4 linked regions of the Homo sapiens genome follow. The protein of the gene in region 2 interacts with the protein of the main gene of each other region in a pairwise test. Each region holds a gene or a part of one and is shown on either strand. Other genes may lie near its edges. The genes, in order: PGRMC1, GOLM1, STRIT1 and SLC30A3.

What was found.
Region 1: the proteins of GOLM1 (region 2) and PGRMC1 interact in binary tests that used the Homo sapiens proteins (3 or more experiments, as listed by UniProt).
Region 3: the proteins of GOLM1 (region 2) and STRIT1 interact in binary tests that used the Homo sapiens proteins (3 or more experiments, as listed by UniProt).
Region 4: the proteins of GOLM1 (region 2) and SLC30A3 interact in binary tests that used the Homo sapiens proteins (3 or more experiments, as listed by UniProt).

What each region holds. Positions count from the first base shown.
Region 1 is NC_000023.11:119,232,228-119,239,304, reverse strand, and holds the start of PGRMC1 (membrane-associated progesterone receptor component 1), read right to left. Parts: upstream 3,021-7,077; 5' UTR 2,942-3,020; coding exon 2,614-2,941; intron 1-2,613. UniProt on the Homo sapiens protein: Component of a progesterone-binding protein complex. Binds progesterone. Has many reported cellular functions (heme homeostasis, interaction with CYPs). Required for the maintenance of uterine histoarchitecture and normal female reproductive lifespan.
Region 2 is NC_000009.12:86,096,558-86,103,789, forward strand, and holds the start of GOLM1 (Golgi membrane protein 1), read right to left. Parts: upstream 3,002-7,232; 5' UTR 2,854-3,001; intron 1-2,853.
Region 3 is NC_000003.12:155,290,664-155,298,250, forward strand, and holds the start of STRIT1 (sarcoplasmic/endoplasmic reticulum calcium ATPase regulator DWORF), read right to left. Parts: upstream 3,021-7,587; 5' UTR 2,970-3,020; coding exon 2,957-2,969; intron 376-2,956; coding exon 281-375; 3' UTR 277-280; intron 184-276; 3' UTR 1-183.
Region 4 is NC_000002.12:27,260,047-27,268,019, forward strand, and holds the start of SLC30A3 (probable proton-coupled zinc antiporter SLC30A3), read right to left. Parts: upstream 3,002-7,973; 5' UTR 2,861-3,001; coding exon 2,766-2,860; intron 1-2,765. UniProt on the Homo sapiens protein: Probable proton-coupled zinc ion antiporter mediating the import of zinc from cytoplasm into synaptic vesicles and participating to cellular zinc ion homeostasis in the brain.

The sequences.
Region 1 (7,077 bases), on a different chromosome or scaffold from region 2:
ATTTTACAACTTTTAAATGCAAGTAAAATTCCAAAGAAAAATGCTTATTTTTAATCATCATTACATGCTGCCACATTCACTAAAGAAGGTAAAAAAAAGCCCACATTTTTCATAAATGTACACCCCTAGTGGAAATGGCAGCACCTAGTGCTTGAGAATAGGCAAATGCAATGGTTTGAACCTTACCATTTCAGAAATTATGGTCATTGGCTTGGTAGAGTGAGTCTTTACCAAGCAAACCTCATAGAATATTTAAACATAGAATATTTAAACCTCATAGAATATTTAAACATTTAAACAATTAAATGTTCTCTAGTGGGAACATTAAAAGTCTTTTAAAAATACATATTATTCAGTGCAACATATATTCACTAGAACGTAAGCTCCATAGGCAGAGATTTGTGTCTGTTTTGCTCACTGCTATATTCCCACATCTACAACAGTGCCTTGCACAGAATTAACAGGCACTAGAATGACTAATTTTTAGGAATCCTTTACAACATGAAGCATCACTTTCTACCAAGATGTCACGTAGTCATGGGCTCACTGAATGACAGTGCAAGATAGAGACAGAGATCTCACAATAGGCCATCTTTATCACTTTTCAGAGGGAAAACTAAGGCTCTGAGAGAACAATGCTTTGCACAAGGTCACACAGCTAGTCATGACCCAATCAGGACTAGAACGCAGGTTGCCTGACTCCCAGTTTTGTGCTCTGTGCACAGGCTGACATCCTCTCAATGACTCTGCAAACTACAGTCATGATGATGCCTCATGCACATGTTTTCACTCCTTTAATATTGAGCTCAATATTAACAGGTATTTACATGATTATGTTTATTGATAAAGCAACTATGTGTGCTACTCTAAGTGACAAATAATGTATGTGGTTTTCAAATGATTTTGACAGTTACATGCCTATAGAAAGCAGGTATTCTAAAATATCCACAGGCCCGGTGCAGTGGCTCATGCCTGTAATCCCAGCACTTTGGGAAATGGAGGTGGAAGGACTGCTTGCGCCCAGGAGTTCGAGACCAGCCTGGGCAACACAGGAGGGAGACCCTGTCTCTAAAAAATAAATAAAATTTATTTTTTATAATAAATAAATGTCTGCAAGAAAAAACTGAGCTCCTTAACCTTAACACATCTGATTTTGATCAGTTGGACTGGGAGACTAAAATGAATGCCTGAGTTTGTGTACTGCCTTCTGTACTCTTCCCTCTCTCAGGCCAGTGTGGAATGAGCACCGTCCATGTGGACATCCTCTAAGCTCCCTGTGTTTAGAGGAGTCCATATTGGAGGAGCCAAAACCTCTTCTTCCTCATCTCCAAGTATTCTATAAAGCAGGACTTTGCAAGCCTGGCTGCTTTTCAAATTCGCCTGGGAAGCATATTAAAATACAGACTCCCGGACCACCCGAGACTCATTTGCAGCTCTGGCGGTTAGACTGGGAATCTGTATTTTTCCTCAGATGCATCAGGTGATTCTGATACGCAACCAGGTTTGCAAAAACCTCGCCTCTAAGGAACCCATCAGGCCTGCCTTCTCCAACAGCTCAGCAGTGCAGCAGTCATCCATTCTTCATTTCCCTCTGGTTGGCTTTTCCTGATATCCCCCCACCCAGCAGTCTTCTTAGCTCTACTCCTTTTGTTTCTTGGTATCCTCCCACTTCTCCCTCCCTCCATTTTAATTTTTCTTGGCTTCTAATCCTTTCTCTCCTGCTATAGACTAAATACCATATTACCTTAAAAGCTTGCCACGTTACCATTGTCCACCATATTCAGCCTTTATTCCTCCCTCAAACAGCCCCCTTCCTCCTTGTTCACCTTCCAGCCTTTCCCCATCTGCCACACACAGCACAAGCGCACACAGACCAAACACATGCCACACACATACCTGACGCATGACCCATTTCAAGCGCGCATGCACACACCACACACACACACCCCTGATAAATCACATACACTAAACACGCACACACCGCGCATGCACACACCACGAGTGCACACACACATCACTATCCACCGGGCACAAAGCTTTTACCTGCTGCTAATCCCGTCTCGGCGTTTTCTCCCACACCCTCATATTTCAAACCTACTCCCGGTGTCATTGGCCTTCCCGTCTTCTCTAGGTCTGGACCTTTTCTCACTCTCGCCCTCCCCCATGCCTCCCTCGGAACACCCTCATTTCCTTCCTAGAACCCGACACTACCCCCTCCTCCTTCCAGGAATCCCCAAGCCCAGGACCTTCGAAAACTACCCCAACAGCCTGGGCTTTGATGTGTCCCCCCTCAACGCCTTCGAGCTTCGTGGTCCCACCCACCCCCGGCTTAAGCGCCTCAGCCTTCTTTCTCTAACCCCCTCCCAGCGCTGTCAGCGCGGGCCGGGGATCCGCGTCCCTGACTGGCCCGCAGCCCCTCTAGAGCGCCTCTTGTTCCCTGCCCGCCCCGGGAGCCTCCCGGCTCTCCGCCTGCCCGCCTACCCGCCTACCCTAGCTCGCCGCCATTCCTCCCTCCACTCAGGGGCGCCCCGCTCCCGCCTCGCCTCTCTCCCGCCCAGCCCCGTGCCGGGGCCCCCTTCTTTTGTCTCCAAGCCCCCCTCGCCGGCCGCGTACCGGGCCCGTAGAATTTGCGGCCTTTGGTCACATCGAACACCTTGCCGTTGATGGCCATGAGTATGCGCGGGTCCTGGACGCCGTCGAAGCGCCGCAGCTCGGCGGGGGTGAAGTCGCGCCGCTTGAGGCGGGGCAGAGGGGGCGGCTCGTCGTCGTCGCTGTCGCCGCTGGCCGCCGGCTGGTCCCCGCGCACGATCTTGTAGAGCAGGAAGATGCAGAGGCCAAGCAGCAGCAGGTTGAGCGGCGACGTGAAAATCTCATGCAGCAGCCCGCCGCTCTCCAGATCGCTTGGGTCGGCGCCAGTCGCCACCACATCCTCGGCAGCCATGATCTCTGGAGTAAAGGTTGGGCCGCGCTAGGCAGGGATCCGGAACTCGCCACTTTCTCCTCCCTCTGAGCGAGCGAGTGGCGCGCGGGGTTCGGCGGCGGCCAAAGACTAGCCGGGGAGGAGGCGGGGCCTGAGGGGCGGAGCCTCCAAGCCCCGCCTCCCCCGAGGCCACCTAAGCGCCCCGCCCTGCTCGGTCCCGCCCCGCAGCCCTCAGGCCCCCTCCAAAGCCTCTAGAGTCCGGCGCCGCTCCCCCGCGGCCGCGCGGTGCCCCCCTCAGTTCTACCTGGGAGGCCCCAGCCCAGCCTCACGCCATCCTCGCGCCATCCTATAGCTGAGCGCGACGCACGCGCTGCCCTCCTCTGAACCCCTTTTTTGCTCCTCGCAGACCGACCCGTTGGGAGGGCCTCGGCATTGCCGGGCTCTGTGCGAGCGCCCCTCCGCCACCTGATGCGCGCCAGACACCGACTCCCTTTCTGTTGCTGCAGGCTTTTCCCTGCCTCCCATTCTGAAGCCCCTCATCTTCCCCCTGCCGTTCCCGGGCCCTCCAAGCTGTCTTAGGAGACAGGAAACTCATTCTTCGAACTCCATTTTCTATGTTAGAGCCCTACACGACTCATTTTCACCTTGGGAACCCCCATTCGCTCTCCTTGATGGCCCTTCCCCAATTCTCCCCCAGATGCTGTGGGACCGACACCCCCGGGATTGCTAAAGTCAGTGCACAACTCTCCCTATTATCTGGGGAAACGAATCTGATCGCCCAGTTAACTTTGGGTTTGTTCTCCGAAAAACCCTTTTGCAATTACTGATTTGCTCAGTCACCAGGCATTAACAAGCAACGTTCTCTTGTTGCTCTTTTTTCCCCCCTCAGAATAATGTGAAAGTTTCTTTGTTTGGCAGCGTTCTTCTATTTGGAGTCTGTCAGGCTACCCTTGGCAGTCACAATAACCCTGAGCTGGAGCCCAGACAAAGGCGGGAGTTTGGAAGGATCCTAGGCCTGGTCCCTTCCTTTCCTAGGTATTTCATCCGGCCTTTGATGTGCTAACAGGCTGCACAGAAGCAGACCTCCACGGAGGAAGGGGTTGCCTCGTCCTAATCTGGCCCTTTTTCTGGTGGCGGGGGGAGGGGAGGAGAAGAAAGGATAGAGAGGGAAACAAATAATTAAAACCAAGCCGTGCACACATCTGCAGCCCAGAGCAGTACTTTTCCACCAAGTGTTCTGTTGGCTTGCACATAACTTACTCCTCCTCCCAACACGCAAGAGACTTGAGTAAAGATTGGCTTCCTACCTCAGAATTCTAAAAATTTCTGGCAAAAACTGCTTCCATCCCTGCCCCCCACATCTTCTTAAATCATTATAAAGTGCAATGAGCCAAACAATCTTTGTATCGGGCCCAGGCATTTTTCTCAGAGCTAAATTTGGGATTAGCTGAAACAGCCCCTCCAAATCTTTTGTCAAAACTCTTCAATTTAATCATGGAGAAACAGGCTCAAACTGAGGGCACTTGTCTATAGTTAGAATCTATCTCTTTTAACATGTATGGCCAAGAAAATTTAGAAAGCTAATAAACTTATAAAATATTTTCATTTGCAACTAATATGACAAAGGGTTAATATTTATTTGAGAGATCATTTGGATTGATAAGAAAATGTATAAGATTCTAGTCAATAAATGGGAAAAAATAGGAACAGGTAGTTCACAAAAGAGAGCATGCCAGTGGTGAATAAGCATATGAAAAATGTTCAGTCTCATTAGTAACAAAAAGAAAAGCATGGAGATGCCGCTGTCACCTACTACTTTTCTACAGGAAAGATAAAAGGGAAAAAAAAAAGGATAACACACTATTGGCGAGAGAGTGGTGAGACTCACATACGCTGTTGGGTATAACCTTTTATTATCCATAAAAATATTTTCTATCCATTAATCCCACTTCTAGAAATCTGCTCTTTGACCTAGTAATTCCATTTTCAGGAATCCATCCCAAGGAGACAGAAACGCAGACAAATATTTCATTACTAAGATGCTCAGCAGAGATTCATTTTTAATACAGAAAAACTGGAAACAACCTAAATGTCCGACTTCAAATAAAATGGCGAATTAATTCACTTGAATTGTGACAAAACCATTAAAAGGCCATTCAAATATCATCATTCTGGAGTCCTAATTAGGGAAAGGGAATCAGGCTGGTGGGAGCATGAAATAGCAAAAAGAAAAAGCAAATAAGCTACAAATCTCCCTTTCTTCATGACCAAGATGCAGCCTTCCTGCGCAAATAATTCACAATCTTCCCATGCCCAGCTATCACCAGACACCTGTAAGTTAGCTCATTGCGACCTTGGCATTATCAATATTACACAAAGACCTCTTCAACAGACAGCATAAACGCCATCCTATAAAATTTCCAGCAAGCCTTTGTCTCCTGGCAGTTGGCTTCTCTCTTGCAGGCTGCCCTTTGTCTCTCTGACAACATATTTTCCTACTTTATCTAATAAATCTACCTTCTTTTAACTAAAACTGTTTTGGTAAATTCTTTTACCAAAAATCATGACATGGCAAAACGCTTGTGTTTTAATCTTGAGGGAAAAACAGGATACAAAACTATATACAGTATGAACTCAACTATGTCAAAAAATTCATAAAACAAAGCGTGGAAAGAAATATGCTAAAATGTTAACTGTTGTGATTGTTAGTTTCTTCCTTATACCTTTCTACATTTTCCACAATGGGCATGTGTCACTTTTAACCTCAGGGGGGAAAATGGTTTATTATTTATTTTCTGAAAAAAAATGTAGAATGATAATACATGTTCACTATAACAAACTTAAACAATACGTGAGTGTATAAAGTAAAAAATGAAACTCCTTTCTCCCTCTCCAAGTTCCCCAAACAGTACTTAAATCAGGCCCATACATTAGCAGTTTGGCTTATATTCTTGCAGACATGCAACATACACACACACACACACACACACACACACACACACACACATTTTGTTTTATAAAACTGGGGGAAATTTTATATAATAAAAGTTTTATCATTTTTTTCCAATAAAGAGAGACACAGAGTAAAAAAACAAAACAAAAACCAAGCCATTAGCTCCCCACCCAGATAACCCCTGCTGGAATGTTTTTTCAAAGTAATATTTGTCTAAAGTTAGAAAATTCAAACTATGGGAAGATATAGAAGACAACTGAAGTCCCTCTCCTCACTCTTGATTCTCTTTCCTCAAAGGTAACCGCTATTAAATCTGGGGAAAGTGTTTTCATGGAGGGATGGGGAGGATTAATAATTCTCATTTATCGTAGTCCAGTGTCTCTTCTGCTACACCTCTGTGTCCCCTTGGAGGATAATGGATTAAAGGAAGTCCTGCTTCACAAGGAGGGTAGAAAACTTGTGCAACTTAAGACCTCAAGAAGTGATACAGTTTAAAAATATAAATGCTTGCAAACCAGATTTGATGTTCAATAAAGTGGGCTATTAGCTAACACTGGGATGTAGAGATTGTTGAAGAAAAGCATCCCATCATTCAGGCTCATGTCAGAATCAATGCTGAGTGGAATGGTCTCCTCCAGGGTGGCAGTTCTCAAGTTATCTGGAAATAAGCAAGAGTGCTCCTGAATAAAAAGCCCCCTTCAGAACATGAGAGTTGCCTTAATATGCTCTTTGGCTCCAAGTCAATTCCTAAAGCCGATGTACTTGACCCAAGGACTACTTATTTCCCAAGATACATGTTAAGTCTTTTAGTGTTTTCAAACTTTCTGTCTCCTTTTAATTATTTTCAAAGGTTTTAAAGAGCTTTCAGAGAAAAATAGAACAATTGGCTGATTAGCTAGAAAATGTTTGGGAAATAATTCAGCCTAGTAAGGAAGCAAATAAATCCAAAGGAACATAAAAACAATGCACCATTTCTCATCATTCAAATGACTGGAGTGTTCTTTTTTCTCTTGTTTCTTGGAGCTTTTTAAGAATGGTAATACTTGGTGTTGGCAAGCACAGAGTAAAACAAGCACTCTGACACAATTGGCAAGAGTGAAATTGCTAGAATGCAAGATTCATTTTGTTCACCAATGTATTTCAAGCCCCTAGACCATGTCTGGCACATAGTAGGCATGCAATAAATATTTGTTGAACTTAATTA
Region 2 (7,232 bases):
GCAAACACAGGACAGCAAAATACCGTGGCTGGCAAAGCTCTATACTGAGTCAGCCTTGCATGAGATACCTCATGAAGTAGAAACTATGCTGATGTAATCAGATCTGACAAGACACAGGCCCAAAATACTTAAAATTAAGAGAAAGAGTATTTAAAACAGGGTTTCTACCTCTAATGTTGTTAACAAATCCAGCCCTATGTGTATATTGGGCCTTGAGACACAATATAACCATAACAGCAAATACATGTAGTTTATAAATAAGCAACAAATGCACATACAGAAGAGTGTTAAAAAAGTTTTTTTATTACTAAGAAACATCAAAAAAGTTGGGAAACGATAGCAAATTACAATATAAACAACTATAATCATATTATATAGTATTTATATATGTACTTTTTTCTGTCAGGCACTAATCTTCAAAATCTTAGCAAGGGAAGTCCTACTAATAAAGTGCTTAAGGGTTTTAAAGGAAAATAAGACCAAAATGTAAAAATCTGAGAAGGCATGGACTTTTTTTTTTTTTTTTCCTGAAAGTGTGAGAAATATCTGTGTGAAAGAAAGGAAAGACTCTCTGGAAATTTAAGAAACACTTCATAAATTTGGAGACAAGTCTCTCTTTTAATGTAACTTCATCAATAACGTGAGAAGTCCAGAAAACCACCATGATCTTTAAGAACAGTTTTTGGGGAGCAAGTGAAATATCATTCGCCCTTTTCTAAGGTGAGAGCAAAAGCATAGTAGCACCATTCCTTCTGTTCCTTCTACTTTTTTACAAATGTTTAAAAAATTGTTTTGTTTTACAAAAACAGAAGTGCTTTTAAAAAATCCCAATTACAAATGTTATTTCTCACATTACGTCACTGAAAAAGAAATGTATCTTTTTTCATAGGGCAACTTATTTTTTTTTTATTTCAAGAAAAAACAAGTAATAACAATAATGCTGCAGAATTTAAGCCAAAGGCACAGAACACCGCTCCCCCGCCCCCAATGGCCACCCCAGGTCCTTTGAGAAAGGCGGCTGGACCTCAGGGACCACGCTGCCTTCAAGCTCCCTCCCACCAATAGTGCCCATCAACTGACACCTGTCTTCTTCTCAGCACACCTGCCTAAAGTGATGCTCCACCCTTCCTACTGATCCACGCAGACGCATTTTCCCCAGGTTCTGCCCTCTGTACTTCCAATGCAGAAAGCCAGCTCGCACTTTCACAGGATAAGGGTAGCAGTTCCCTCCTTCCTGGGGAAGGTGGCCATATATATATAAACCCGGGTAGCCCTGGGCCTGCTATGGTCAGCTGTCCTAACTGTTGTTTCTGCCCAGCCCTCAACAACAACAACAACAGCGGGTGGAATGTAAATGCAAAATCTTTTCATTTCCCATCAATAACTGGACCTAAACCAGCCATTAGAAAGCAGATGGTATCCCTGGCCCTTAATATCCAAGTCACCACAATTTCCTGGCCCCACCCTCAGCACTACTTTCCTCTCATTTCTTTCGTTTTCCTGTAAAACCAACTTTAAAAAAAAATGTGAAAATTGGATAACCTCTCCATAGGAGAACAAAATGTATCTTAAAAGCTAACCTCTTTTCTTTAACCATCCTAACAATTCAATTTTTGTTCACTGACACCTTAAGAATTGAGTGTCTGGCCTAAAAACAGTAAGTCTTAGCAAGTTACTAGTTTCTATTAAGAAAGAAAGTAATGAGCTTAGCTTCATCTTTTATAACACAACTGGAAGAAGCTAGGATGCCTTTGGAGACCCACAAAAACTGACAAGAGATTGTCCCATGCCCTCCAAAATTCAGAAATACTAAAACTGAGATTTGAGCCAACCTGATGGCCATGAGCTAAACAAAGCCACTCAAGCGCTGCTAAATACTTCATCAGGTTATTGTGTATCTCACTAATCCAGCCCTAGAAATGTTCCTCAATAATGTGCATAATGTAGGGCCTAGGGACCCCAAATCAGACAAAGAAAACCTCAAAATCGTGAAAGTCACACAAGTTTAGTTTTGCAAATCTGGCTATGGGACATCTGAAATTGTCCAGCATCATCATGGTATTTCAAATATAATAATTCTTAAATTTTGCTAAAAAATTTCATCAAAATTGTTATTCTTCACATTTTGTTTCTTAAAAGCAAATCATTAAAAATATTAAATGGGATATGATTTTTACAGCAGGGCAAAGTTGTGTGGATCCTCCACGTTGGCAAAGGTGGAAACACAGGTATGCGAGAAAACCCCGAGCATCCACGAGAACGGGATGCAGCCGCGCTCTGGACGCGCGGCGGGAGGACCCGGAGCCCAAGCTCCGGGGTCACCAGCCACGAGGCCCAGCGGCAACGTGGACCCCAGGGCGGCCGGAGCGCGCCTGGGGCTGGAGGGGAGGAAGAGGCGGCGGGAGCCGAGAGACTCGCGGCTCGGCCAGCCTCCCGCGCCTGGTGCAAATCACGCTGCAGAACTGGAACTAGTGCGACTTAGGGGGTGCACGCTTTTGACTTTGGATGCCGACGCGCGTGACAAAGCTCAGAACAAAAAGACAGGCCCCGCATCGCCTGAGACTGCAGGGCAGGGAATCCTCGCGAGGCCCCTCATCGCAGGGCAAGGGGGCCGCGCGCCCGGTCTTGGGGAGCGAGCCGAGGGGCCCAGGCAGCCGCGGGCTACTCGGTGCAGGAAGGTGCGGAGCCAGCCCCGAGCGCAGCCAGCGAAGGTTGCAGCCCCGGCGCAAGCCGCGGGGAGGCTCCGGGGACCGACGCGAGGTCTCGGCGCGCGGGGTACGGGCCCTGGGCAAAGGAGGGAGGAAGCGATGGACCGCGGTTCGGGCAGCCTGGGGCCGCGCGCCGCCCACTCACCTCTTTTCGAGGCTCCGGCCGCCACTCGGGGATCCGGGGCCCCGCTACGAGGCCGCCCGGGTCGCTCTCCCGCCGCCGCCGGCCTCGAGCTCCGGCCGGCTCCGCGCCGTGCGCCCAGCGCCTCCGCGTCCAGCGCCGCCGCGTCTCCGGCCTCCGCAGCGGCAAGGCCCCGCCCCCGAGCAGCGCCGGCGGCGCGAAGGGAGGAGGCGGCGCCGCGAGCGCGGAGAAGCGAGGCAGGGGCTGCCGGGGCCGCGCGGACTCCCGGCCCCACGGTGCGCGCGCCCCGGCCGGTGGCCGCCCCTCGGCGGGAGCAGGAACGCCAGCGTGCGCCCAGTTCTCGCCGCTGGGCGTTGCCCCTTCCCCCGGGCCACCCCATCGCCCCTTCCGACGCGGGAGCTGGCGCCTGAGCAGCGACGCGGAGCGGGGAAGCGGCTGTGGGGAAAGGGTACCTGGGGGGAGCCCCCATCCCACGTTCCGCCCCGAGGGAATGTTCCCGAACAGCCAACCGCACCCAGCGCCACACTCACGTTACCTTCTTTATAAAAGTCGTCGGGTCAAAACTGCCCAGAGAAGGAAGCGAACGAAAAACAGGTTTTTAGGGGGCTTATACTCACAAAATTGTCTTTTTTCTCCCACGAGGCATTCCCTGTTGACCATCATCTCGCCTCGGTTGTCACCGCTCAGGCCTTAGTGTTTGGTCTGTGACCCTTCCACTGCTAGCAACGGAAAAAGTGAAGATTCCCGGACGCCTTCGGGTGTGATCTTATAGCCCGGGCAGCTGCATTTGAAACAGCGCCTCAGATGACGCTCAGGCGCACTGATGTTTGAGAAGCCCTATGAGGCCGTACCTCCCGGAGAGAATGCCACAAAACTAGTGACCTACAGGGAAACCATGCTAGAAAATTCTAAAGCAATGGTTCTTAACTCTGGCAGCACCTGCCATCCATTAGAATTATTTGGGGAGCTTTTAGAGCATTTAGGAACCAGGGTCCCACTTCCAGAGTTCAAAGTGAACTTGATATTTTTTGTTTGTTTTGAGCTTCCCAGATAATCCTAATACAGTATACGGCCAAGATTGAGAACAGTTTTCCTAGAATCATGTCTTCATGTCTTCCTAGCTCTGGTGTCTGGGAAAGGAAACTCCTTCCTCTGCGCCTCTCTCAAATCACAATAAAAAAACAAGTAAATACATGAACACCTAAAGGAATGCTCACAGCTGAAATTGATTTTAACCAGAACAAAGAGTCACCTTAAAAAAGGTGATCAAGATACCCTATTGCTACCTGAGCATGGAGCTTCTTAACTGCAGGAAACGTATCTTTACCAGCTAAAACCTCTTAGCTGAATTAGAAGCTGACCATACATGACCCCTTTAGAGGAATGTTCTACTATATTCCAAAATGATATTTTTGTTATCTGCAACTGTTAAACTGTTGTAGGGTCAGACCAAAGCATTCAGAAGCTGAGGCTGTATCAGATGTCAGCCCTGGTTTTGCAGACTTAAGTTGTGTCACTTTGATCTTCTAGTGAGCTTAAATAACCATAATCGGGGACAGGTACAGGAAATTCCCTTTCTTGCCCATTTTAGCTCTCTTAGTATAGTTTACATTCTTAGACTGGTGGACTGTAACTTCTATATCATTTGGCTCTAAGGAGGGTCTCCATTAGTCTCTCATTTATCAGCAACTAATTAGCGACTCACTCAGTGATTCTTAAACACTTTATGGAACAGGTCCATATGTCTAGGTGCTAAGGCAGCTGGCTGAATGAGCTATATTTTAATTGAAGATGAATTAGTCCTTTTCGTTAGATTCTTTATGACAAAAGTTGAAAATTTTAAGATGCAGTTTTATATATATCTATATACATAATTTACATTCCTTATAAAAAAGCTAATCAGTTGCTGGCCCTGAAAATTCAATTGGATGGGTTTTGATTAAACAATGTGCAAGGGGCTACAGTGGTTGGTTGAAGGAAGCATCCATGTTTTGCCTGTTAAGCATCCTTTCCTTAATGTCTTAGTCCATTTTGTGTTGCTATAACACAATTCCACAGACTCAGTAATTTATAAAGAAAAGAAATGTATTTCTCATAGTTCTGAAGGCTAGGAAGTCTAATATCAAGGTGCTGGCATCTTGCAAGGGCCTTCTTGCTGCATCAGCCTGTGGTGGAAGGCAGAAGGGCAAGAGGGTGTATGTGAAATTGAACTTGCAGCCTCAAACCCTCTATAATTGGCATTAATTTATTTATAAGAGTGGAGCCTTTATGACCTAAACACCTCCCTTTGGGCCCCACCTCCCAACACTGTTGCACTGGAGATTCAGTTTTCAACACGTGCTTTATGGAGCACACATTCAAACCATAGCATTCTGCTTCTATGCCCCCCACCACCCCCAGTTCATATCCTTCTCACATACAAAATACATTTATTCCATCCCAACAGCCCTAAAGGCTTTAATATTTATTTATTTATTTATTTATTTTGAGACAGGGTTTCACTCTGTCCCCCCGGCAGAAGTGCAGTGGTGTGATCATGGCTCACTACAGCCTCAACCTCCTGGGCTCAGGTGATTCTCCCACCTCAGCCTCCTGAGTAACTGGGACTACAGGTGTATGCCATCATGCTCAGCTAATTTTTTTGGTATTTTTTGTAGAGATGAGGTTTTGACATGTGGCCCAGGCTGGTCTCAAACTCCTGGGCTCAAGCAATCCACCTGCCTCAGCCTTCGAGAGTGGTGGGACTACAGTCATGAGCCACTGCACCTGGCAGCCCTAAGGTCTTCACTCTAGCACCAACTAGAAAGTCCAGAGTCTCATCTAAATCAGATATGAGCAAGATTCAAGGCACAATTCATCCTAAGACAAATTCCTCCAGCAATGAGCCTGTGAAATTAAAACAAATTATTTACTTCCAAAATACAATGGTGGCACAGGCACAGTATAGGTATTCACATTCCCAAAGGGAGAAATATGTAAGATAAAGGGGTAACTGGTCCCAAGTAAGTCCAAAACCCAACAGGGAAAAAATAACATTAAATCCCAAAGCCTCAGAATAGCCTTTCTTGACTATATCTCACCTTCTAAGCATACTAGGGTGGGAGTTGGACCCCCAAGGTCTTGGGCTGCCCCATCTGTATAACTTGGCTGGGTGTAGTCATGTCACAGAACCTCATGGTTTGTAGTCTCATGTCTAAAGCTCTTCCAAGCTGTGTTGCACACTGGTAGCTCTACAGTTCTGGGGGCTCTGGGACAGCCCCAACCCCACAGTTCCATTGGTCATTGTCCTAGTGGTGGTTCCCTGCTATGGCTTTGCTTCCATGGCTCCACTAGGCATTTCCCTGGTAGGGAATCTCTGTGGCAGTTCTGCCCCTACGGCAAGTTTCTGCCTGTATCCCCAGGCTGTCCAGTACATTCTTTGGAATCTAGGTGGAGGCTGCCATAGCCCCATAGCTCATGAACTCTGTGTACCTTCAGAATTAGCACCACATGGATGCCGCCAAGGCCCACCACTTACACCCTCTAGAACAGTAGCCTAAGCCACAGCTGGGCCCACTTGAGCCACACAGCTGCAACAGCTGTGGAGTGCTGTGCTGGAAAGCGGGGAGCAGATACTTGAGGCAGTGCCTGGTAGCAAATGCTGAGGTCCTGTGGCCACGTCTCTGGAAACCTTGCCTTCAAGGTCCTGCTCTGGGCCTGTGATGGAAGGGGCAACCTAAAAAATCTCTGAAATGCCATTGGGGTCTTTCTTGTCTTGATGAATAGCACCTGACTCCTTTCTAGCCATGGTAATCTCTTTAGCAAGGGGTCCACTGGACTATATCCCTACAAGGACTTACATCTTTATGAGGCTCTCCCAAACATGCCTTTGCACTCTTGGCCAGGCTGAAAATTTTCAAAATTTTTTTCTGCTTCCTTTTTAGTTATAAATTTCATCTTTTAATCATTTATTTCTTCTCTAATTTTACTGTAAGCAGCCAAAACAATCCATGCAACACCTTGAATGCTTTACTGCTTAGACATTTCTTCTGCTAGATATCCTAGTTCATTGCTCTTAAATGCTGCCTTCTTTTCTCTAGCTTACCTTATTGTAAGAATACAGTTTATAATACATATAACATGCAAAATATGTGTTAACTGTTTATGTTATCAGTAAGGCTACCAGTCAACAGTAGGCTATCAGTAGTTAAGTTTTGGGGGAATCAAAGTTAAATGCAGATTTCCAACTGTGCAGAGATGGGGGTGTCCCTAACCCGTAGATTGTTCAAGGGTAAACTGCATGAAATAAATTGAATTGAACAGACTAAAAAGTATTTGCTGTAAATATCTTGCTGTGTTTGCTTTCAGTATCCATTATTTCCTTTCTCAGGTACCAACATCAT
Region 3 (7,587 bases), on a different chromosome or scaffold from region 2:
AAATTCACTCATAATTTCTTATTGTCCTGAAGAAATTCTTATGCATACCAAAGTGCCAGTTTATGATCCAAGTTTGTAAAGTGATGTCAAACATTGCATTGTTTAACATGAGACATTTAATAATCAGTCATGTTCATAGTTTTCTTAATTCTTCTAAATGATGTCAATCTGATATCTTCTTGCCTGAAAGACAAAACATTCCATTAGTAAAATAGAAAAGATTGTTTCTGGAGTAATTTAGACTATAAATAAACATTCAATTATTAAAACCCTTACCTTTCTAAGAGAAGACAACATAAATCATTATGATGCAGCCCACAATCCAGCCAATCAGGAGAAGAATAGGAACCAGAAGGTGTGAAAATGTAGACCCCGCTTTAAAATAAACCGTAGAAAACAGATTATATTGGTCATTTTCATATTAAATTTTCTGTGTCAAGAGAATAAAAGGAATTTGGTAACATTAAGAAAAAAGCATACACTCTCTAGTTATACCCATACATAATTATTTTTTCTTTTCTACAGAGAATACGTGAGACTGTCATAAACCCTGGGTATTTTGAATCAAACCATGGGTCTTTTACTGTTATGTGACCTTTGGCAATTCTGGGCTTGAACTTTCCTACTGGTAAAATATGAATAATGAAACTTGTGCTCTCTACCTCCTGGAATAGTTTTGAACATCAAATGACATAACATATGTGCAAAGCTTTGTAAACTCTAACCACCGTGTGTGTTTAGTGTATACAGAACACATTCATGCATTTGTGCAATAACATATACAGCAGCTATTTATATAAAAAACAATCTAATACAACTCTGAGGCAATTCCCACTAAAGTAAATAATTATAACACAAGGAAAGGTATTGAGAACTGTCCTTGGCCTCAATAGCTGAATGTAATTTTAAATATCACAGGGAAAAGGAAAGTATCATACATTATGTAACCATTCTTGACTACAGAAAAGAATTTCTATTGTTTAAAAATTGTTCAGTATAACAACCAGCACTGAACCTGAATCAATGGGCAGTAATAATCCAACACACACATAAATGGCGTTTGTTATATATGATTCCTTCTGTGCCTCCTATTTGTACTCTTACCTGTAAAAAGCAATTTATACAAGTATCTTTTTTAAAGTATGCACTGCATGTAACTCTTGTTCTTTCAAGCAAACATACACAGGCATACACACAGAAATCCACACCTACATCACACAAAAAGATTTAGAAAGAGCGCAGAAAAACATTCTATGGAATTAATGTCCCTGTGTTAAGGACTCAGATATATTCTTAACTGCAAAGCATAATTAGATCTTATGCCATTAGTTAAAAGAGAGAATGCATATTCTTAGCAATTATACTCCTATTACAATTTCCATCACTTTAAAATGTGAAATTTTTAAAAATGCTATTAAAATAAAATCATCAGGAGATGAGACACATTTAAAATTAGAAGACACTTTTATAAAAGCAAACTTTCTGAAGTTGAAATAAATTTTAATACTTTAAATCAATTTTTCCAAGAATGCTAGAGTCTCTCTTAACTGACAAAATTCAACATGCTTTTCTTGTTTCTCCATCTCACTGTGACCTTGTATAAGGCATTAAGCACTAAATGGAAAACTCTTCTCTTTACTTGACATGTGGTATTGCTTAAGGATAAAGCAAACAACATGAGTTGCCCTTTACTCTCATTTGGACGAAAGCCTTTTTATGAATTAAGGTACCATTACAATGGAAGTACATAGCAGTAATTTTTTTGAACTGTCTAGGTATGTGGCTTTATATTTTTCCCAATTTCAAAGAATTTGAAAATTAATATTAACCCTTTAATTGTGCATTTATATTTTATACATGCATATTTTAATAAAATTTACATATCACAAAGCCCTAAAAGTATCTCATTATTTACTTTCCTTGTAAAATAGTACCAGTAGCACTAACTGTGCATTTTAACACCCAAAGTATACATTCCATTGTTTTTTTAACACTAATGTTTTCAACTTTACTAATACCTGTGGAATTGTTTGGAAGTAGAAATACGTAAGAGCACAACATACTTTGCATATGTCACTTACATTACTAGCACAAATAAGAACAAAACATCTCTTAAACATGAAGTGTAATTCTAAAATGCTTCTCTCTTGTCCAGTTCTGAGCATATCAAAGTAGTTACAGCTGGAAGTGTTCTTGAGGACACTGTGCTCTGGAAAAGACTGTCCAGGTTAAACACCTGGTGCCACCACTCTTTAGCGATCATGAACAAGTTACTAAACTGCTGTGTCTCCATTTTCTTATCTATAAAATGGGGATGATGATGATATGCATATTTCACAAGGTCATTGTCAAGATTCAAAGCAAAAATTCCTGTTTAATATTTAAAAACCATTTCTTAGATACAGTATATATTCAACTTTTTGACAAATTGGAATCAATTATTTTATATAACTATAAAATATAAATACAAAAAAATGTTTAAAAACCAGAAAAAAGTTAGATGTGGAACAAAAATTTTAGGTGTGGAATAGATGCCTGAGCCCAATATTCTCATTTTACTGTCAGAAAACAGACTCAGAGAGGTATAGGGACTTCTGCAAACTCACATAGCCATTTACTAGCAGGTCTGACACAGAACTTAACTGTCTTCAATTCTGGCTCAGAATTGAAATCAGGAGAACTGATTTCTAACTCACCTTTCAAAATAAGTATTAACAAAATTAAGCTCTTTTCCTTTGTTGATCATTTTAAAATTATTCATAACCTATAGACCTGATCCATAGATTACATAATTAATGCATTTTTGCAGCCACACTAACATATATGGTTAATGGTCATTTAGCATAGATATCACATTTTTTAGAGTGACTGGGAAACACCAAGAAACATAAATGAACCAAAGTCAAGAAGCCTTTTTTTTTTTTTTGCCAAGAGAATCCTATGCCTTAAATCTTACCTTTTTCAGCCATTATTCCTGTTGGTGGGTGGCTAGGTCAGGCCACGCTTACCTCTTTCTTTTGTTATCCAGCGTCTCTTTGAACTTTAAATAGAGAGAAATCTGAAGATTGCGGCAGCTGCCCGTCTCCTGGCTGCCAATTGTCTGCAGAGTGATGTAAGTCATGGGAAAGCAGAACTCCTCTGGCTCTTTATTCTATTATTATGGAGGAAACGAGGGGCTACATGACCTAAACAATTAGGTAAGCTGAATTATCCTAATGCAGATATTCGCAGGTTTTTAATTTGCACCATGCCTTTAGGTAACATGAAGAAAATGTTCTATAAAGAAGGTGTACAGAGGAAAAACAACATTCCACCTATACAAGTGCTATCAAGGAGAAGGGTGATATATTAGAAAGAAAGGATTTTGATGTTGGAGAGACTTGGGTTCAAATTCCAGCTCTTTCTGTAATGAAAGCCAAGTTGCTTAACCTGGGAATCAGCTTCTTTAGTTTTAAAATGAGGATAATAATACCTACTCATGGGAGTCGCATAAAGATGAAATGAAAGTCTGTATGAAATGTAGACAGTTCTTTATTACTTTACAGGTGGAAAACATAAAATGAAATGGTGCCCCTTTCTTTGAACTATTCTAAAACAAAAAGTGTTAATATAAATGTACTAGAAACTAAAACAATACAGACGTCGCCTAGAATTTTTAGGAAGCAGTCATAAGCTTGTTGTTTTTATTAGCAATGTATAAAAATAGGACATTTCATTTTTCAAAGTCCAAACTGGTTTATGTAACTGACCTAGACTATTCTCTATATTCTCATTGGAATAACTTTAAATTGGGGATCTGGCTGGAAAAGTTTTGCAGAGTGACCCTGTGAGCATCTTCCCAAAAAAAATTTGACATAAGATTAAGACCTGTAAAGGCAGGTCTGGCCTGATCAAATTTATCTCCACAGAGTTCCAAGAGTGATATTGCCTTGCAAATGACCATGTTCCATCACTGCTCAAAAATCCACCAATAGTTCTTCATCTCCTAGACAATAAAAATCCCAACTCTTTGTTTAGACACCTAAAAACCCTTATTTCTCTACTCTTCCATTTGCAGTGATAACTTCAGTGACACTGAACTCCTTGCTATTATATGAATTCAGAATCCTCCCACTCTCACAGGCAAGAAGAACATTTGACTTTCTACCTCAAATAATGTACCTATAGATTAGAGTGTGCAGCCAAGAATCTGGCACATTTATATCATTTATGTCAAGTTGTCATCTCTCTCCTCAGTCTCTCTCTCAATATATTATTTAATATTGAAAAAATGTCTGGCTATGTCAGGTAAGCAGAAAAACTACGTATTGTTTATGCAACAAAATCCCTTGCTTACCTGGCAAAGTTGGGTATTTTTTTCAATATTAAATAATAATACGTTAAACAAAGGTTAACTGAGGCCAAAAGAGAGAGAAGAAATAAAAATGTTATTGATCTCATTTAAATATAAAAAATGTTAATTCAGTAAGTTCAAATGAACACTAATTATCTTAAGGAAAAAAATGATATTTAAAACAAACAGTGTGGTACCCACAAAGAGCACAAACATACATAATAAAATAAAATAATTTGCCTGAAACATATGAAAAGGTTTCTACATTTTAAATACTCATTTCCATTTCAATTATATTAAGCTTTCTTCTTGACATGAAATTGACTATTATTAACATTATTGCTGTCAATTTGGAGTTTGAGGAGGGATTAGTTTATAATTCATCATTTATTTTCCTTACTTTTCTATGGAAAGAAGAAGAGAAAAAACTAACTTAATCAACATGAATTTCTCAGACTTCAGAAAAGAATTCAACCTAGAATCTCATTTCCTTGGTTATATCATCAGTAAATTTTTTAAAAAATATAAGTTTTATAATATTTAATCAGGAAAGGATGTTTTATTCATTAATAGACTGGTTTCACTTTGAGCTTATAAACCCAAGGGCCTATATTTGACCGTTTTCTAATCTTTCTCTTAGGACATACTAATTAGGAACATTTTCTACTTTTTTACTTTACATACTGTCTTAAACATTTAGCTCTCAAATCCCTTATTCTCAAGGTGACATTAGATTCTTCAGAGATATGTGAGCCGAAAAATTTAAATATTTGGTTTTTCTTTAAAATATTTAAGAATTCTTCACTTTTCAAATATTTTTCACTACTAATGTCTGGAATTATAGTACATAGACCTGACCATGGTGGATGCTCATGGATCTTTGCTTCATGGCTGGCTGACTGGGTAGGTGGATGTAATAAGTGCAGTATAAGGTAGCTTAGTTTGCACTCTAAACAAAGGTTTACTTATGGCAATACCTAAAAGAGTAATAAGAAATAAAATGATCTTAACTATACTCTAGCCTTATAATATATGCATATATAGATAATACAGTGTATTTAATTACCAGTAACATTAGAATAATCTATAAATAAGAATATAAACAAATAAAAGAAAGTGACATCTGCAAAAATAGAGGAGTGGGGGACTCCAAAATATCTTTCCTTCATAAGAGCACCAAGAAAGCCATCTAAAATTTTTGAATCAATTTTTAAGAATTGTAGAAATTAACCAAGGACTTACAGCAACTGGGGGAGCTGGAATCTAGGTAAGAACAGCAAGAGTTTTGTGATGTTTTAATTTGGCCTATTCTCATCTCCCCCATCTCCAGCTTTGTAGCAGCCTTAAACAATATCCCAAAATCTCAGTGAAAACTAGCAGACTAGCAGCCACCAGAGGAGACAGAGCAGAACAGAACTCTTTCAAAGTCTCAGTTTCAGAGAACAGTAATTATTTAAACTGTCTGGTGGTTCTCCCAAAGACCTCACCTGCAAGGCTGTCTTTATTTGATAAGACTCAGAACTTCCACTGTGTGAAAAGTACCCACTCCCAGGGCATTTGTTGAAAACAATTAGAGGCAATTGTTTAACATCACAGCTGCCTAGGTAACAGAGTGAACAATAGGCTAACTAAAAAGCTTAAAAGGAGAATCTAGGGAATGAGATGTCAATAGGGGTTTGAAAAGTTTCACATATCCTTAAGAATCTAGAAGGCTACATGCATATGTTCAGCTATGGGCATGACCTCATGGCTGTGGGTATGCTTAGGAAAGACCTGAAAAGGCCCTAAGCTTTCACCTCTGGCTAACCTTGAGGCTCAAAATGGAAAGCAAATGGTAAGGCAGTTGTCAACTGCCTGGCTGAGTGTTAAAGGCATACCTCAACACATACACAGAGCCCATCATTAAAGTCTGGAAGGCATACTAGTTATAGGCATTTAAAGAAATCATTGTCCAATCATTAGTTGATAACTAATCTAATTGAGCAAAAATTTTAGTGGTCACATACAACAAAGAATGCAAATTGTACACAATCAGTTCAGAATAATAACAACAACAAACAGCAATGACAACAAACTCTTGGGAGGAGGTAGAATCTGATTTAAGAGTTGACATTATTTAAAACTACTAACTTTCAACAAAAAAAAGTTATGAGATATGCAAAGGAACAAAAATGTATGCCCATACAAAGGGATAAAAAAACTATCAAAAATAACTATTTCTGAGAAGGTCTATAAATTAGACTGACTAACAAAGACTTTATGTCAGCTATTTTAAGTATTTTCAAATAACTAAAAAAAGCAAAAGAATGCCATCTCAGCAAAGACAATATCAGTAGCCAGATAAATACTATTTTTAAAAGAGCAAACAAATTCTGAAGTTGAAAGGTGCAATGACTGAAATGAAAATTTTACTAGAGGCTCAACAGCAGATTGAGCAGGCAGATGAAAGAATCAGTTAATTTGAAGGCAGTTTGATTGAGATTATCCTGTACAAGAAACAAGAAGAAAAAATAATAATGAATATGGCCTTAGAGATCTGTGGGACACCATCAAGCATATCAACATATGCATAATTAGAGTCCTAAAAGAAGAAGAGAAAGGGCAGAAAAAATATTTGAATAAATCATGGCCAAAAGCTTCCCAAATTTGTGAAAAATGTTAACGTACATATTCAAGAAGCTCAATTAATTCTAGGTAGAATAAACCCAAAGAGACCAATACCTAGACACAAAATAACGGTCAAGAACCAAAGACAGGTTGGGTGCAGTGGCTCATGCCTATAATCCTAGCACTTTGGAAGGTGGAGGCAGGTAGATCACTTGATGTCAGGAGTTGAGACCAGCCTTGTCAACACGATGAAATCCCATCTCTACTAAAAATACAAAAATGAGCCAGGTGTGGTGGTACACACCTGTAATCCCAGCTACTCAGGAAGCTGAGGCACAAAAATCACTTGAACCTGGGAGGTGGTCATTGCAGTGAGCCAAGATCACACCACTGCACTCCAGCCTGGGCAACAGAGTGAGACTCTATCAAAAAAAAAGAAAGAAAGAAAGAAAGAAAGAAAGAAAGAAAGAAAGAAAGAAAGAAAGAAAGAAAGAAAAGAAACAAACACAAAGAGAAAATCTTGAAAGCATCAAAAGAGAAATAACTAACTCACTATATGCAAGGGATACTCAATAAGATTAACAGCTGATTTCTCAATAAAAGACATGAAGCTCAGAAGGCAGTGTTATGACATTCAAAGAAAAAAT
Region 4 (7,973 bases), on a different chromosome or scaffold from region 2:
AAGGGAAGGTGGAGTGAAGTGTGGAGTGGGACTCAGCATGTGTTCCTGGCCTTGGTGTGCCTCCTTTCCAGGCCCACCTCCCAGAACCTCCACTCCTGGATCCTGCCCCCGCCCTCCCTAGACATGAAGCTGAAGTGTGGCCCTTTAAGAGACGAGCGGGACATTGGGGCCAAAAAGTCTGATTCCGGGCACAGAGAACTGATGGCTAGATTCCAGAGCTGGGGTTGTCATGGGAGGAAGGGGTGCAGCCTGCTATGGCTGAGGATGGCAGTGGGAGGAGCATGTTAATTGGACTTCAGTCCGACTATAAGCACCCAGCAGAGCCCACCTTAACTGCATGGTACCATAAGTCTCCCTTGACAAATGAATGGGGCTTGGGACCTCACCTGGGGATGCCAGAGGCTGAGTGAGGTCAGGCTGAGTGCTAAGTCCATTCTGGTCCAATTCTCAGCCCCACCACTACCCAACCTGAACCCAGCAAGGACAGAATTTTCCACAGAATTCAGGACCTGAATAGAAAATACAGTACTAGAAATACTCATGGAGGTGTGACAAGAATACCCACAAGTAAAAACGATGGCTCCAGATAGAAATGTGATCATAGCAGCAAAGTGGGGCGGGATGTCTGGGGCCTTCTGGCTAAAGACAATTCTGCCAAGTGGGTGAACTGAGTTTTGAGGGAGGTAGGGGGAACATTTGGTGCTTGTACAGAGAACTGAAATACTGGTAGATTAATTTCTTGAATTTCCAAAGCCCCATCCAAGACTTAGAATCTGGGCGTGTATGATTCTGGATGTGTTTCCAGAGGAGATGGCGTGGTGAAGGAGGCTGTGAAACCGATCCTCATTCATTCAATGAGGTGCACCAGGCAGAGCACACATAATGAAGCCTGGTCTGGTGGGAAAGACAGATTGTAACAAATGGCTTACTACATAAGGACAGGTTGATGCTAGGAGGGTTATGAACAAAGCACTTTGGGGTGCAGGGAAGGGAGCACTCCCTCACAGCGGGCTCGGAGAACTTCACAGAGAAAGGTATGTTTAAGGAGATGAGACCTAGTTGGAGAAGGGTGTTCCAGACATGTAGAATGACAAAGACGAGGTTTGTGGCTTGGAGTCTAAGCGTGAAGTGTCAGGGGAGGGCTGAGGAGGAAAGTGATGGGCTCAAAGGAACATAAAGGGAGATACACTGACTGCTTGAACAAATATCTCCTGAGCACTGAGATGACCTTGCTGATGGGAGGAAGAGAGGAGAAGAGAGGAAATGGAGGGGTCTAGAACAAACCAGGCCAGAGCTTCCCTGGAGGGGCAGGTAGGTTAGGAAATGCCTTTCAGAAAATGCTGCAGGATTCGGTGACTAATGGTCATATGAGTGAAGATGGACTGGAGTTGGAGATGTGAGTCTGAAGCGCAGAGGCTGGGTGGCTTTGGGGGCAGTGGGCAACATTCATTCCCTGGCCTTGTAAGGCACAGCACAGCCAGTCATCAAGGTGGCCACCCATCAACAGGCTGCTCCCTTTTGTTCTGCATAATTTGGGCACTAAGGAAGCCTGGCTGTTGGTGTGTGGGGGTGTGGGCATGTGGGGTGGCTACATGCTGTTTAGAGACAAGGAAAGGCTGTTTCCTCTCCCTGGCCCTCCGAAACCCCCAACCAACAACCGATATTGAGCGGGGAAGAGGGGTGACGTAGCAGGGGCTGAACCAAAATCAAAAGGACACCTGAAGAGATGCCAGGCCTACGGCAGAGCCCCCACCGCGTCTCTGCAGGCCCCTGCAGGAAGGGGTCCAGCTCTCTTCTGCTCACCCCCTCCCCCAACCCAGCTTGAAGGCCCCCACCCAAAGAAAGAGCGAGAAGCACACAGAAGCACCACGTCAGAGACAAAGGGAAAGGGACTAGGAGAGAAACAGAAAGATTGAGAGAGGTGGGGGAAGAGAAAAAGCCGGAGACCCTGCCAAATTCCGGAGACAAACGGACGGTCAGCCGACAGACAAGATGGCCCACGGGGGTGGGCAGGGAGGTCGGACGGCCGCTCAGAGGGGCAGGTGGACGGTGGCGGCAGGCGCGGGGGCCGGCGGGGCGCGTTGGCGGTTCTCCTGCCACCCCCGGCCCGCTGTCCCGGCCGCTCCGCGCGCCTCATTTCACACCTCGCCGCCCCCGGCCCCGTCTGTGCGGAGCCGGGAATACCCCCGCTGCCCAGACCGCACCTGCTCCTTCCTCGCCGCCCCCTCGCTTCCCGGCGGCCGCCCGCCCCCCAGGGGCCCGCAAGACCCGCGCGGAGCCCGGCCCATCCTCGGGCCCCGGCGCCCACAGCTGGCCGCGGCTGGAGGGGGCGCGCGGAGGGGAGCCCCCGGGGCCTACAGAGGGAGCTCTGAAGCCTGGGCAGCGAGGCGCTCCCGCCCTGGGCCCGGGGCAATGCGGACCTTGGCGCACCGGGCGAGGGCTCCGGCCCGACCGAGCGGCAGCTGCTCCCAGGGAAGGCAGGCGCCGCGGGGGTGGCGGAGGGGTCCGGCGGCCTGGGACGCCGGCCGGAGGGGAGTGAGAGGCCGCTTCACCCGAGGAAGTCAGGCGGCCGGGAGGAGGCGTAGCCGGCTGTGTAGGGCTGGGCGCTCCGTGTGGCCAGAGGGGATGAAGCGGGGTGCAGCGGAGCGAGGGACCCGCGGTGCGCTGGGGCGGCCGCCGGGGCCCGCGCCGAGAGAGACAACGAAATGGACGGAGGGTAGTAGGGTGGCGCCCCCGGGCCGAGGGCCAGCCCAGGTCTGTCCTACCTCTTCAAACGCAGGCTGCCTCCGGCGCCACCGCGGTCCCGGGGGCTCACCAGGCGAGTGGTCTCCAAGCCCCCAGCGGCTGGAGAGGGCTCCATGTTCCCGGTGCCCCGACCGTCTAGGCCCCACCGAGGAAGAGAGAGGCCGGGCCGGCCCCGCGCCAAGTCCGAGCAGCCCGCCGACCCCCGGGATCCCCGCAGGGCGGCGGGGCCACCAGAGTGGAGCGAACTGCAGCGACTGTGGCGCGCGGAGTCCGAACTGCAGATCCCGCTGCCGCCGGAGCCCCGCCCCGCGTGGGGCGAGCTCCCCAAGCTCCGCCTCCAGGCTCCCCGGCCTCTCCCCACCCTTAAGCCCCGCCCCCACTGCCAAAGCCCCATTTCCCCGCGCCAGAGCCCGGGAGCGCCCCGCCACCCGAGTTCTGGAGAACTCCTCATCTCCACAGCCCCGTCCCCCAGGCGAGCTAGCCCCACCTCTGCACACAGTCCCGCCCACCGGTTCCAAGCCTCGCTCCTGAAGCCCAAGAACCTCACGACCAACCTTCGCCCAACGACCACCACTCTGTGCATGCCTGCGCGGGGGTGTCGCCCACCACGCCGTCACCCTGTGGCCGCAACCCTCACGCGGAGGCAGAAACAGGAGCGGACCCATTACCTATCTCCAGAGAACCAGAAAGAACATGAGGTGAGCGGTGACACAGGGAGATTCCAGGGACTCCAGAAACCCCTTTACGGAGAATCTGGGGTCGGAATTCACGAGCCCAGTCTGCTGCCAATCACTGTACCGCGAATGATCATTTATTTTTATACAGAAACATTGGGTGACAAGCTTCCTGCTCTCCTTCAACCCACTGTTATCCCTGCTTTTCAAATGAGTAAACTGAGACCCAGAGGAAGAAGAGTCCAAGGTCATGCAGGCTGTGAATAAAGGGCCCGGCCTGGACCCCCATCCTCTTTCCCTCCCCGGCTCTGGACGCCGCACTGGCAACTGGAGAGCGCTCACAGTTCTCTTACGGGCGGGGGTCCAGTGAAGTCGAGCCGCCTATCTGGTGTCACGGCCACTGTTTATGGAGAGGGGCTGAGGGGCAGCGGGGCAGCGTGTCAGCTAGTGATTCCCATCCTCCACACCTGCAGCGCCCTCCTGGACATTACCGCATTCTGCCTCATTTGGGGGAAACTAAAACCCAGGGGAGGGAGCGACTTACAGCAAAGTCGGTGGCCGAGCCTCAAGTCGAAGCTTCAAATGCTCAATGTTCTCTCCCCTCGCACCTGCCGCCACTGTAGAATGGGAGGGGGTGGGAAGAGGATTGTGCACTCGAAGCTGTGACAGTCTGTGAAGAGGAGGGTCCGTAGGAGGAGGGGAGCGAGTGAGCAGGGATGGGGAAGCGTGGAGGGTGGGAATGGTTAGTGAGCCCAGGCAAGAAACTCATCAGCCGCATCCTTCAGAACACACTGGGCGTCCTGAACTTAGGCTTCTGGGGACAGACACCTACCCTCGATATTGTTATTCCAACGAGCCCAAGAGTGCACTTGCAAAAAAACAAAACAAAACAAAACAAAAACGGGAGCACGTGCCAGATACAGTGGTTGGAAGTGATGGGGTTAACCCGGGAGAGCTTCGCGGAGGAGGTGAGGCTTAAACGGATTAGGAAAGCTGGGCGGCGGGCTGGCTGTTCCGGCGGGGGAGAGTGTGGCTTGGCCCGTGCCAAGGTGTGCGGGCGGCGCGTGCGAAGGGACTGTCCTGCGCCGCTGCTGCAGAGCGGCACGGGAGAGCCACAGGGGCTGCGCGCGCCCTCCGCGCCGTCCCCACCCCCGGCTGCGCCAGCCTCTCCTCCGCGCCAGCCCCCAGCCTCCCCAGTCCAAAGCCCATGAGGGGTGAGGGGGTAAGGGAGCGAGGGGGTCGTTCTCCCTCTAACCTCCCTTTAAGGCGCGGGACTTGACGGACCTCTGTTTCTCCTCGGGTCACAGGGAAGCAAATTGAGGCGGCGAGAGCAGGAAACCACCGGCCAAGTTCACCTTTTCGGGCTACTTATCAGAGCCAAGGTGGAACCCAAGTCCCTGCTTAGCTATGCCAGGGCTCTGGGTACGTCGGGCCCGGCGCCGTCGGTTTTCTAAGCGTCGCACCCATCCTAGGGCTCTCCCCAATTCTGAGAACCCTGGAGCTGGGATGCGCAGCGGCCACCGCGCACTCCGCGGCTCGGATGCGGCAGCCTGGCCCGTAGTGACCCTGGCGGGTGAGCTCGAGAATGGGGAGAAACTGCGGGGTCCTATGCGGGGAAAGGGATTCTTGGCACGGCTCAGCCGATGACGACAACAGGGGACATAACAACAATGGCTTCCTCCGGGATTTCCCTTCCCGGGCAGCCCGCGCGGCCAGCAGCACCGAGTGCCAGGAGGGGGCGCAGACGCCCTCACGTGCCCTGCCCGCCCCTGCCGGGAGCCACCAGGCGGGGAAGGCAGAGGCGCCTCGCAGCGCGTGGCCAAACGTGCCGCCTCCAGAAACCGAGGGCGCCGGCGGTGGGAATACCAACCTTCACTTGAAAATTTATGTAAGGAAAGCTTGGCGGCGAAACAGGATGCTTCCACCTGTTCCTCAAAGAGCTATCAAATGGCCCTGTGAACATCTTTGCAAAGGGTCCTCGCGAATGCCAGGCCTCAAGTGCGATTCTCTGCACTGAGGTCAGGATTTAATCTGGGCTGGAGATTTCAGGCAAATTTTAAAATGTAAGCATGTGGACAAGAGTTAACACCTGACAAGTGCAAGCCAAGCTGAAGAGCATGGACAGAGGAGGCAACCTGGAGGTCCAACTTCTACTCCATGCTCCACTCAGATGTCACCTCCAGGAAGCCTTTCCTGACTTCTCCCAGACTGGGTATGTGTCCCTCCCTGCTTCTCTCAAGGCTCACACTGTGCTTATCTGATCCCAGCACTCACCTCATGGTGATGAAGTCCTTTGCTTGTCTGTCTCCCTGCTACAGGGCAAGCTCCCTGAAGGCAGGAATTGTTTCTTTCTCATCTGTGTCCCCAAACCCCACTAATGGCTGCCACACTGTCCTCAATTAAGCCATCCCAGAAAGGAGGAGCTAGTTGAGTGGAAGCAGGATGGAGGAGGTAGGATTTTAGCTGGTCACAGGGAGAATGAGGGAGGGCAACAGCTTAAATGTCACTGCCTCGGGGAGGCCTTCTCTGGCCCCCACACTAAGTTAATTCTCATGTCATACACTCTCATCGCACAATACTTTTTCTGTTTTGTTCTTTTTTTTTTTTTTTTGGAAACAGGGTCTCACTCTGTTGCTCAGGCTGGAGTGCAGTGGTACAAACATGGCTCACCACAGCCTCGACCTCCTGGACTCAAGTGATCCTCCTGCCTCAGCCTCCCAAAGTGCTGGGACTACAGGTGTGAGCCACCATGCTGGGTCAACACACTGTTTATTTCTTTCAGCACTGATCATACTGTAACTAAATTGTTACTTGGGAATTATTTGTTTCATCATTTGGCTTCCAGGCTACCATAATCTGGTTTTCCTCCTACTTCACTGGCTGTTTATTTTCAGTCCCCTTTGCTGGTTCCTCCCCACCTTCTCAATCTTTTCTTGCTGAATTAGCCTAGGCCTTGGTCACTCTCTTCTCTTTTCTTTCCACACTCACTCCCATGGAGCTATCATCCAGTTTCTGGTCTTTAAATACTATCCAATAACAGCAGAAAGTAATGATTGTTGAAGCTAGATTCTGGGTACATAGAGAGTCACTGTACCATTCTCTCTATTTTTGTATGGGTTTGAATTTTTCTATTAAAAAGGATTAAAAATAGCCTGGCTGGTGGCTCACACCTATAATTCCAGCACTTTGGGAGGCCGAGGCAGGCAGATCACTTGAGATCAGGAGTTTGAGACCATCCTGGCCAACATGGTGAAACCCCATCTCTACTAAAAAATACAAAAATTAGCTGGGTGTGGTGGCATGCACCTATAGTCCCACCTACTTGTGAGGCTGAGGCAGGAGAATCACTTGAATTCGGGAGGCAGAGGTTGCAGTGAGCTGAGATTATGCCACTGCACTCCAGCCTGGATGACAGGTGAGATTCCATCTCATAAATAAATAAATAATAAATGTCATGTGTTTGGTGGTGATTCTCAGATCTCTCACTTGGACTCCAAACTCATATATCCACATGTCAGCTTGACATCCCTTCCTTATTGTCTGGTAGGCAGGCCTATCAAGCTCCATAAGTCTAAAACTGAGCCCCTGATTGTCACGCCATCCTGAACCTTCTCTTTCTGCAGTCTTCCCATGTCAGAATATGGTAACTCCATCCTCCCATCTGCTCAGGCCAGACATCCTAGGGTCATCCTCGACTCCTCTATTTTCACTCTACATCCAAGCTGTCAGCAAATCCTGATCCCGCCCTTGTCCAAACCACTATCATCTGTCTTCTTGATTACTGCAATAGCCTCCTCCATGGTCTCCATGTTTCCATCCTTACTGCCTTATAGTCTATTCTCAACCAAGCAGTTAGGTAAACATAGATCAGATTTGTCACTCCCCATCACACTCAGAGTACCAGCCAGAGTCCTTCTAATGGCCTGCAAGGGGTCCTACGGAATTTAGCTCCTCTGATCTCATTTCACACTTCTCCCACCTCATTCCCCAGCCATCCTGGCCTTCTTGTGAGTCCTACAACACACCAGGTATGCTCCCACCCCAGGGCCTTCACATTTGCTTATCTCACCAGCTGTAATGCACTCTGCCAGATGTGCTCATGACCTACCTCCTCACATGCTTCAGGTCTTGACTCAAATATCACCTGGCCAGGCCCTCTCTGCTTGTCCGTTTAAAAACTGCAACCTGACTGGATGCGGTGGCTCACGCCTGTAATCCCAGCACTTTGGGAGGCCGAGGTGGGTGGATCACCTGAGGTCAGGAGTTCGAGACCAGCCTGGCCAATATGGGGAAACCCCGTCTCTACTAAAAATACAAAAATAAGCCAGGCGTGGTGACATGTGCCTGTAATCCCAGCTACTCTGGAGGCTGAGGCAGGAGAATCACTCAAACCTGGAAGGCGGAGGTTGCAGTGAGCCGAGATCTTGCCACTGCACTCCAGCCTGGGCAACAAACAAGACTCCATCTCAAAAAAAAAAAAAACTCAAAAAACAAAAAAACACTGAAACCTCTCCCTAGACATTCTCTATTTCTATTCCTTGTTTTATTTTTCTC